3 separate regions of the Homo sapiens genome follow, and regions 2 and 3 are each linked to region 1. Evidence: fine-mapped expression QTL. A gene starts in region 1. Each other region holds a variant in brackets. All regions are shown on one strand. Distances are from middle to middle. Region 1 holds the start of PPP2R3A (protein phosphatase 2 regulatory subunit B''alpha). Region 2 overlaps PPP2R3A (protein phosphatase 2 regulatory subunit B''alpha). Region 3 has its middle 76 kb from the start of PPP2R3A.

Region 1 (2,765 bases):
TTAGCAGTGGCTTAGAAAATTTTTAAAAGGCTTTCATGGACTACTGAAAGAAACTGAGATAATTTTTAACATACCACCAAGAAAAAAAAACAACAGTTTTACTACAACACAAGCCGGCTGCCTACTGAACTGGACGCCCATGCTCTGACCTAGTATGGCAATTCTTAGGGTCTAGGCGCTGGGTTCTGTTTACAAGAAACTAAGGCCTGAGACTAAGGAAGAACAAAGAAAAATGCCTGGCACCAAAGGTGTGGGGGATGTTTTGTACATAAATGAAGATTTGAGGAGGAATACTTCCTCAGATGTTGGAAGGAATTACTCTTTTTTTGCTTACGTGTTAAGAATTTAATGTTTTCAGGCCATTTCCTAATTAGAAAATACCTTATAATTTACAAACAATAATTTGTCTTCCCCTACATTTGCTGACCACCAAGACTGGATAAAATTTCCTTAAGCTTTACCAGAGTGGGAGGACTGGGAATAACGGGAGCACAACAGAGTTCGGATGCAACATCAACTCCAAGCCCGGCCAGCTGGTTTCCATCGAGAGGTCCCCCAGGAGAACGCCCCTCCGCGGCGGCGGCGGCCAGGTCGGCGCGGGAGAGACCCACCGAGGCGCTCCAGCGCGGCCGCGGTGCAGGACCAGGGGCCGCCCGGCCTCCGTTTACCTTTGTTTCAGGTACCCCGGCTCCTGGCGGGCCGGGAATCCCGTCCGCGGCCCGGAGCTGGTGACACATCCTTCTTTGGCCAAGTCGGGCCGAGGTTGGGCAGGGGGCGGGGAAGGAAAAGAAAGCCTCAGCGCCTAACGACGTGACTCTCAGTTCTTCCAAAACGCTGGCATTTGTTTCTCTGCCAGGCTTTCCTGTTAACAAGTTCCCGAGGGCTGTGCGGGCGAACTGGCCCAGGAGCCCTGAAAAGTGGGAGGGCCCAGGCCGCCCCCGCCTACCCTCCTCCGCGGGCGCCCCTGGGGCAGGCAATTTCCACACCTCCCTGGTGCCGTGTCCCGGGACCGGCCGGCCGCGCCGAGGCAACGCACCGCACCGCACCGCACCGACTGGAATTCCGACTTCCACAGCCCAATCAGCTCCGTGTGGCCCCTCTGGCCAGGCCGGTCCCCGCCCCCAGGTCCCGGCCCCGCCCGCCCCGGCCTCCGCGCGCCGCCCCGAGCCTCGCCACCCCCTCGGGCCGGGACGAGGGAGCTGAAGGCTCCAGGCCGTGCGGCCAGTGTTCCTTTGCCTACCTCGTTGCCCGCGGCTCCTCCTCCGGCGGCTCAGCTCGCGGGCAGCGCTTGCCTCCAAGCCTCCCCGCGGCGCGGACTCTCGGGCTACGAATGCGGCGCGTGAAGAGCGGAGGCCCGAGCGCGCCCCGCCCAGCCACCCGCAGGCCCCTACCTCCTTCTCCTCCTCCTCCTCCTCCTCCTCGGCCCCACCCTCGGCGGCCGGCCCGCCCGGAGCCCCGCCCACGCGCCAGGCCCCGCCCACTCTCCGGCCCCGCCCCCAGCCTACGCCCCGCCCCTCTGGCCAAGGCAGGAAGGGGGCCTCCAGGGGCGCCGCGAGAGCCGCTGTGGCCTCGGCGAGGGCAGTCTCCTGTATGGCGGCGCCGCGGGGATGCGATTCGTGGTGGTCGCTGCTGTTTGACAGATTCGAGTCTCTTGCTCGGATTTATTACTGTTATTGTCATCGTCAATATTGTCATCGTTGTTATTGTTATCGTCATTAGTTGTGTTGCCCTCTTCAAGGGGCCTTCAAGGAGGCCCCTTGAGGGCAGCGCGCTGCTGGCCAGACATTCCCTGGCGCTCCTGTCTTCCCACAGTCCTGCACCTGCGCCACATTTCACTCAGCCCAAGAAGTTGTGTGAATTTTAAAAGAAGTGATACTTATTTTTAACTGTTATTGTTAACTGTTACTGTTAAATAAAACACAAATATAGACAGCCATATAAAACCAATGTACAGCTTAATGGATTATTCCGATACACACACCCTTATAACCACTCGCCAGATTTATTAATAACACCGTGTAATATGGTCTGCTCTGAAACAGAACCTCATTAATAGCTGGAAGGACATAGCCTGGAAGGGCCTCCCAAAATTGCCCTCCTTCTAACTGCCACAGTACTCAAATGTGACAGGTCCATAATCATGCCCTCTCCAAGAATATATTTGTAAAATGGAAATTTCTCCAGAATTAGGAACCTCCAATTGAGTATCTTCGTAAAAATCTTGATAAAATGATAAATCTATAAATATATAAGCATATAAATAACAATAAATAAGTCAATCAGTTGGGTTGAATACCATGAGTAAGGAGCATGGGGGTGGGGGATGGGAGGTATGTAAAGACTTAAAAGGATTAGGTGGGCTGTGAGGACAGGTCCTGGGCACCTGGGTTGTTCTCACTGTCTCCCCAGCACCTAGCATAGCACCAAGCATATACTAGGTGCCATATGTGTGTGTGTATATATGTGCATTGTACATATATGCACATATATGTGTGTGTGTGTGTATAGCACAAGGAAAGAAAAAATTATGTAAGATAACCCCAAACAAGCTTTACATACTGAAATTTCACCCAAGGTCAATCCTCCCAGTAGCTAAAGTGTGCTCTGTGAGATGCCTTGATGCCCTAGAGAGAAAGAGACCATTTTACTTTCAACTTTCTACTGCTTTTCCATTTCAAAAGCCCTTTCACATGCATATGGTATCTTATTTGAGACTGAGAGCAACTCTGTGAAAAATGCAGGGCAGGATAGGACTCTGCAAAGGT
Region 2 (2,765 bases), 29 kb before region 1:
AGAAAACTTCAAAGTAGAAAAGAAAACCTTAAAAATTTTCACAAAAATGACAGTTTAGAAGAAAAGTTTGGTTATAAATACATTTTTACAAAGCAGCAGCCTTTAAATAACAGGAACAAAGAGAAAGTTTCTGAGGCCAGAATCACATTAATTATTGAGCTACAGTATTTTTCAATTCTAAAATACATTTTTTTTTGGACATTTTAACATCACTTAAATGGAAATACATCTTATAGTTGGTAGCATCTTAAAATCCCTATTGGTCAGGCAGAACTGTGACATGGTTGTCATTTATTGAACGCACTCTAGTAAGGTCAAGAAAACACCATTGTAAAAAAACATGCAGAATAACTTGGCAGAAAATTCCCAAAGATCATAGCAGAACACTCTTTTAAGAAATGCGTCATCACCAAACACTCTGGATGGCAGAGAAAGAAAGTATAAACATCGGTGGCTCTAAATTGAAAAGTGATTTTAAAGAGTCTGAATCCGAATAGATGAAATTCTAGAAATATTTTAGCCAATTATTTCCACTGTATTTTATTTATATATGCACAAGAGTGATATATAGTTAAAAATATCCATCAGGCCAGGTGTGGTGGCTCATGCCTATAATCCTAGCACTTTGGGAGGCCAAGGTGGGCAGACTGCCTGAGGTCAGGAGTTCACAATCAACCTGGCCAACATGGTGAGACCCCATCTCTACTAAAAATACAAAAATTAGCTGGGCATGGTGGTGTGTGCCCGTAATCCCAGCTAACTTGGGAGGCTGAGGCAGGAGAATTAAAGGAACCCGGGAGGCAGAGGCTGCAGTGAGTCTAAGGCTGCAGTGAGCCGAGATCGTGCCATTGCACTCCAGTCTGGGCAACAGAGACAGACTTCATCTCAAAAAAAAAAAAAAAAAAAAAAAAATCTGTCAACGTAAGTCTCATAGAACTCTTTCAATGAGTAAAAAAAGTTCTAGAGGATAAGCACTCTATCATAATCAATAGAGTTTTTTCTTAATGGCATATGAAATAATGAGTTTTATAATCTTAGATGAGATAAAATATGAGAAAAATTTTCAGTCTAAACATCTGTTATAGTCTGCTTTATACCCCTAATACAACAGACTACTTGCAAAATCATAATTGTTCTGAATGTGTATATTTATGCACCTCAGGTCTGTGGCATGCTGCCAGCCCCACCCCCCCAGGCTTTTGGTCTCTGCTGGTCCTTTCATCTCCACAAAGGGCCAGAGTCTGTTTTCCTAATTTCTGGGTGAGTGTTTCATATGCATCTTTAGAGTTCATTCAACAGATATTTATCAAGCACTTACTATTACCACCACTTTAAGCAGATTACGATTACTCTAACACATACTTTCCAGTGCCTCTGGAAAGCTCCACAATAAACTGCTATATGGCAGTTCCTAATGAAGAAGATCTGCTGT[A/G]AAACAAAGGTTTAGAAGCAGCAGATAAGTTAGGATGGAGAGGAACTGGATTTTTGAAAGATAAGAGCCTTATCAGGTAAAAACAGGTTGGACTGCGCCTTGTAAGCAAAAAGGAATTCTATGAAGGCACAGAGACAGAAAAAGGCTGGTGTGTTTAGAGAGGTATAAGGAGTCTGGTATTGGTAACGCTGAAAATGTGCAGTATGGGTTTCACAGTTTTAAAGTCTCCTCCAAATAATAAGAATGAGAAACAGGAATGCAAACTCCATCTTCAAAAACCTAGGAGACACCTGTAACTCCAGATGAAGACAGAAAAGAGAAGTAGGAATGGTAAATGACAGCTTACTGATGACAAGCAAACCAGTTCATACCCTGCACAACCCAAAGAAAGCCAAGGTTTGTTGGTAGCAGGTACCACAGAAAATGGAGTAGGGTAGAGGATTAAACATAGGGGGACTGTTTGAAAGTCTGTAAGAGAATAGTTAGGTCTCCATACCCCCACTCCACAAGCTCAGAAATCATCCCTCTTTCACCCTGCTGAAGATAGAAAGTTGATGTGCTGGGAGGAAAAAACTGAAACAGAAAAGCACCAACATCAGGGGCATCAGACAAAGACGGTGGTAAAGGATTGAAAATAAAGGAGGCCCAGGTCACCAAAAACCAGGCTTACTAACTCCAGCTCCTAGTCTCCACTGTGGATTAAAGAATCTTTTTCTAGAGAAATAGAAATCTCATCTAGCTACATGATCATCTTACAGTGAAGCCCACTAATTGACAAACGCTGTCCACAAACACAGAGCTTCCCTTCAGCTTTTTAGAGCTTCACTTTTATTTTGAAATCAACTTTACTGATAATTTACATACAATAAAAAACATATTAAGTTTGTAATCCAGTGAGATTTGACAAGAACCATGTAACCACTGCCTTAAAAAAGACAGAACATTTTTATCACCGCAAAATTATCCCTAGGCCCTTTCTCAATTTCCCTTACCCATAATATCCAACAACCACTGATCTGATTTCTATTACTGTAGGTAAGTCTCGCCAGTTCTAGATCTTCATATTAGCATAATTACATATGTACTTTTCTCTCTGGCTTCTCTCATTTAGCACTTAGTTTCGAGATTTATCCATTTTACTGTATGTTATCAATTGTACATTCCTTTACACTGCTGAGTAGTATTCCACTGTATGAATGTACCAGAATTTGTTTTGTCTATTCAAATGTTCTGATGCTATTCAACAAATAGATAAAACAAATTCTGGTATATTCATACAGCTGATGGACATTTGAGCTATTTCTAGTTTGTGCTATTATGATTTAAAGCTATT
Region 3 (2,765 bases), 76 kb after region 1:
CTGACCAAGGGAGGATTTGTCAGTTCACTGGGCCTTGGGTGTGTCTATCACTTTGTTCCGTCAATGAACTGAAGACTGCAGGCACCTCCACAGACCACACACAGGATCTAATTGGCTCAATAACATCTAACTTTTTGTAAACTAAAAGAATAAAGATTTTTATTAAGCACAGTAAGCAGCCTTCAATATCTTCAAATTAACTTCATCAAAATCCATCTATAAGCAATCAAACTCAATGGCAGTTCATTCTTGCACAATCTATGAGTTAGGGCAAACGTGTCATCAACTTACATTAAGACATTAAGAAACCTACCTAGCTCTTGTGGGCAGGAAATAAGGAACTATACTTCATTTATGATCACTGGTAAGCACATAAACTTCTAGTAGAAAGATATTTCATTTGTATGAGACAGAGAGAATTTGGGACTGATGGCACCAGCCATACAGGTCATACAGGTCACTAGCAAATCTGGGCCCAAACTGTGCCGAGAAAAATAGAGGTATATTAACTTTGGGAAAATTAAACAAGTCAGAGGTGAGGTGAATTTAGATGAATTTGGGTGATTTCAGTAAATGGTGTTGGCCAAATAATTTTGTCAAGCCTTTGGTAATTTAAAGATGCGAAATCTGCCTGTAACCTCACTTGTGATTTTACCTGTGCTTTCTATTCTTTTATTCTTGCTATAGTTTTTTAAAGACAAAAATTCAAAAAAATTCCACTTTCGTCTTAGATACATATTGAAGATACTTATCAAAAAGATACCTATTAAAATCTAAGCCAAGATAGATATGAAGAGCAAATTGCTGCCTGAAGCAGTTATAGTGGCGGTCATGATCATTTCTCTTAGAAGAGTGAGGGGACTGCAGCAAATGAAGCAGGGGTAAACACTGGGAGGGGTTGATTGGTCCTCCCTTCCCCCTGGGGTTTTCCATAATAAGCTTTTCCTGAGCACGTGTATGTGTGTGAGTGTGTATGTTCCATGCCATGGATATTATGTGGCTGGGCTCTAATCATTTTCTCTTCTTGGCTGTTGGCAATGCTGTGGAGTAGAAGGTCAGTCTCTGTCATGTAGAAGAGCAGAGTGATTAGATAGAAAGACTGTTAATTAGAATGCTAAGACCGCAGCAGGGCACCTTCTCACTGATCAGCTGTGTGAAGGCAGCTCAAACTGTAAAAAGCTGGAGAGAATCTGTGTGGAATACTTGTTGGTGCCAAAAT[C/A]TCTAATGCCCCAAAGAAAAAGAGCCAAGTATCAACCCTACACAGGATTTTAACTAAAAGGAAAGACACAAGGCACATTCCAGTTTACGTGTTGAGCAAGTGCCAAAGTTAGATTAAACAGTGAATGATTACTGTTAAAGGTAGTAACAAGGTATATGTATTTCTTCAAATCTTGCTCTAAATGCTGTAATCAATTTTTATCTATAATACTTTGAGATGAATTGTTATGCTTTGTTAACTTAATATTCTATTTTTATAGAAAAAGCACAGAGGCATAGAAAAGCATGTTAACGTCTCTCTCTCCTCTGGGAAGCCTTTTGTTCCAATCTATAGTCACGGGTCTGCCCAGGAGCAGCCAGGTCAAATTGTAGTCAGGATTGTAAAGGAGGGAAGCGTCCATATGTATAAACTCCAAAACTCAAACCTACAGAAGAATACAGCAAGCAATTTTCTTAGAAGAATAAGAAACAATGAGAGGAGCCACAACGGTGACAGGAGTTCATGGGGCCAGGAACCCTGTCTTGCACACCTGGTAGAAGGGCTCTGAAGTCAGGGGGTAACTTTCTGCATGATATCAGTTGAAAAGTTGGTGAATCCTTGAGTACAAGGGCCTCTTTTTCTACACACCTCTTATTCACACTGCAGGGTCGATCGCTGCCATTTTCCAAGCCCTTCCTGCCATATTCCTGCTCTTGCTAATGCTATACATTCTAAACTGCTAAGGACTCCCTGTTAAGAGAGTATTTTCTCGAGGATCAGAAAAAGGTAAAGGGATTTTCAGAAGAGACACCTTGGAAACTGTGGATTTATACTGTAAAGAGTGGAGGCAAAGCCCTTCCCAATTAAAAAGAAAGATTTTTGGAGGATGAGCAGGGAGAATGAAAGTATAAGGTGAAGGCATTGGTGACAATGGTATTCGTTTGAATCACAGCCTACCATTTCCTCACTGCATGACCCTGGGCATGTTATATCTAAATTCTCCAAAAATCAGTTTTTGTCATTCTTATCATAGAGTTAAAAATACTTAACCTCCTGGTGCTGTGAGGAGTAAATGTAATAATTTGTATTTAATAATTTGTATAAATCTCTTGTTACAAAACTTGAAACACAATAAGCATTAAATAAGTGATAGCCAGTGTTACTAGCTATTGTTGTCATGCCTACATTACTGTGCCAGACATTGAAATTCCTGTGCAATCTCCCTATACCTTGCCTACTTATCTCATTTCCTACCATTCACTCATCCTTCCATCCCTGTAATATATGTTCATCATGAACATGTACCAGGCTCCATCCAGGCCTGGGCCCATTTTCTTCTCCTTATTATCACTTTTGTTTCTCTTACGGACTCTGAATGAAATTCTCCTTCCCAGGCTTCCATCTCATTCCCGGAAATTCAACTTGAATATTAGTTCCTTCAGAAGCTATTTAGAGCAATTTCTGTTCACTTTAGACTCTTCCTTTCTCTGTATTGTAATTATTGTTTGTGTCATAGGCTTAAGTGCTAGATTACATAGAGAAGAACTTTCTGTGATGATGGAAATGA

Evidence for each region.
Region 2: its variant is fine-mapped to the expression of PPP2R3A in blood mononuclear cells (TOPMed, PIP above 0.99).
Region 3: its variant is fine-mapped to the expression of PPP2R3A in blood mononuclear cells (TOPMed, PIP 0.99).

The regions. Positions count from the first base shown.
Region 1 is chr3:135,964,325-135,967,089 of GRCh38, reverse strand. It overlaps PPP2R3A (protein phosphatase 2 regulatory subunit B''alpha), which reads right to left and starts at 1,362. Exons shown (of 14, transcript NM_002718.5): 1 at 1,241-1,362. RefSeq lists silencers at 886-1,165, 1,296-1,525 and an enhancer at 970-1,788.
Region 2 is chr3:135,993,595-135,996,359 of GRCh38, reverse strand. All of the region lies in intron 1 of PPP2R3A (protein phosphatase 2 regulatory subunit B''alpha), which reads right to left. Among named protein-coding and RNA genes, the nearest start is that of PPP2R3A, 29 kb to the right of the region's middle. The variant A/G (reference allele first, on the strand shown) is at 1,433.
Region 3 is chr3:135,887,913-135,890,677 of GRCh38, reverse strand. No RefSeq gene overlaps it. Among named protein-coding and RNA genes, the nearest start is that of PPP2R3A, 76 kb to the left of the region's middle. The variant C/A (reference allele first, on the strand shown) is at 1,220.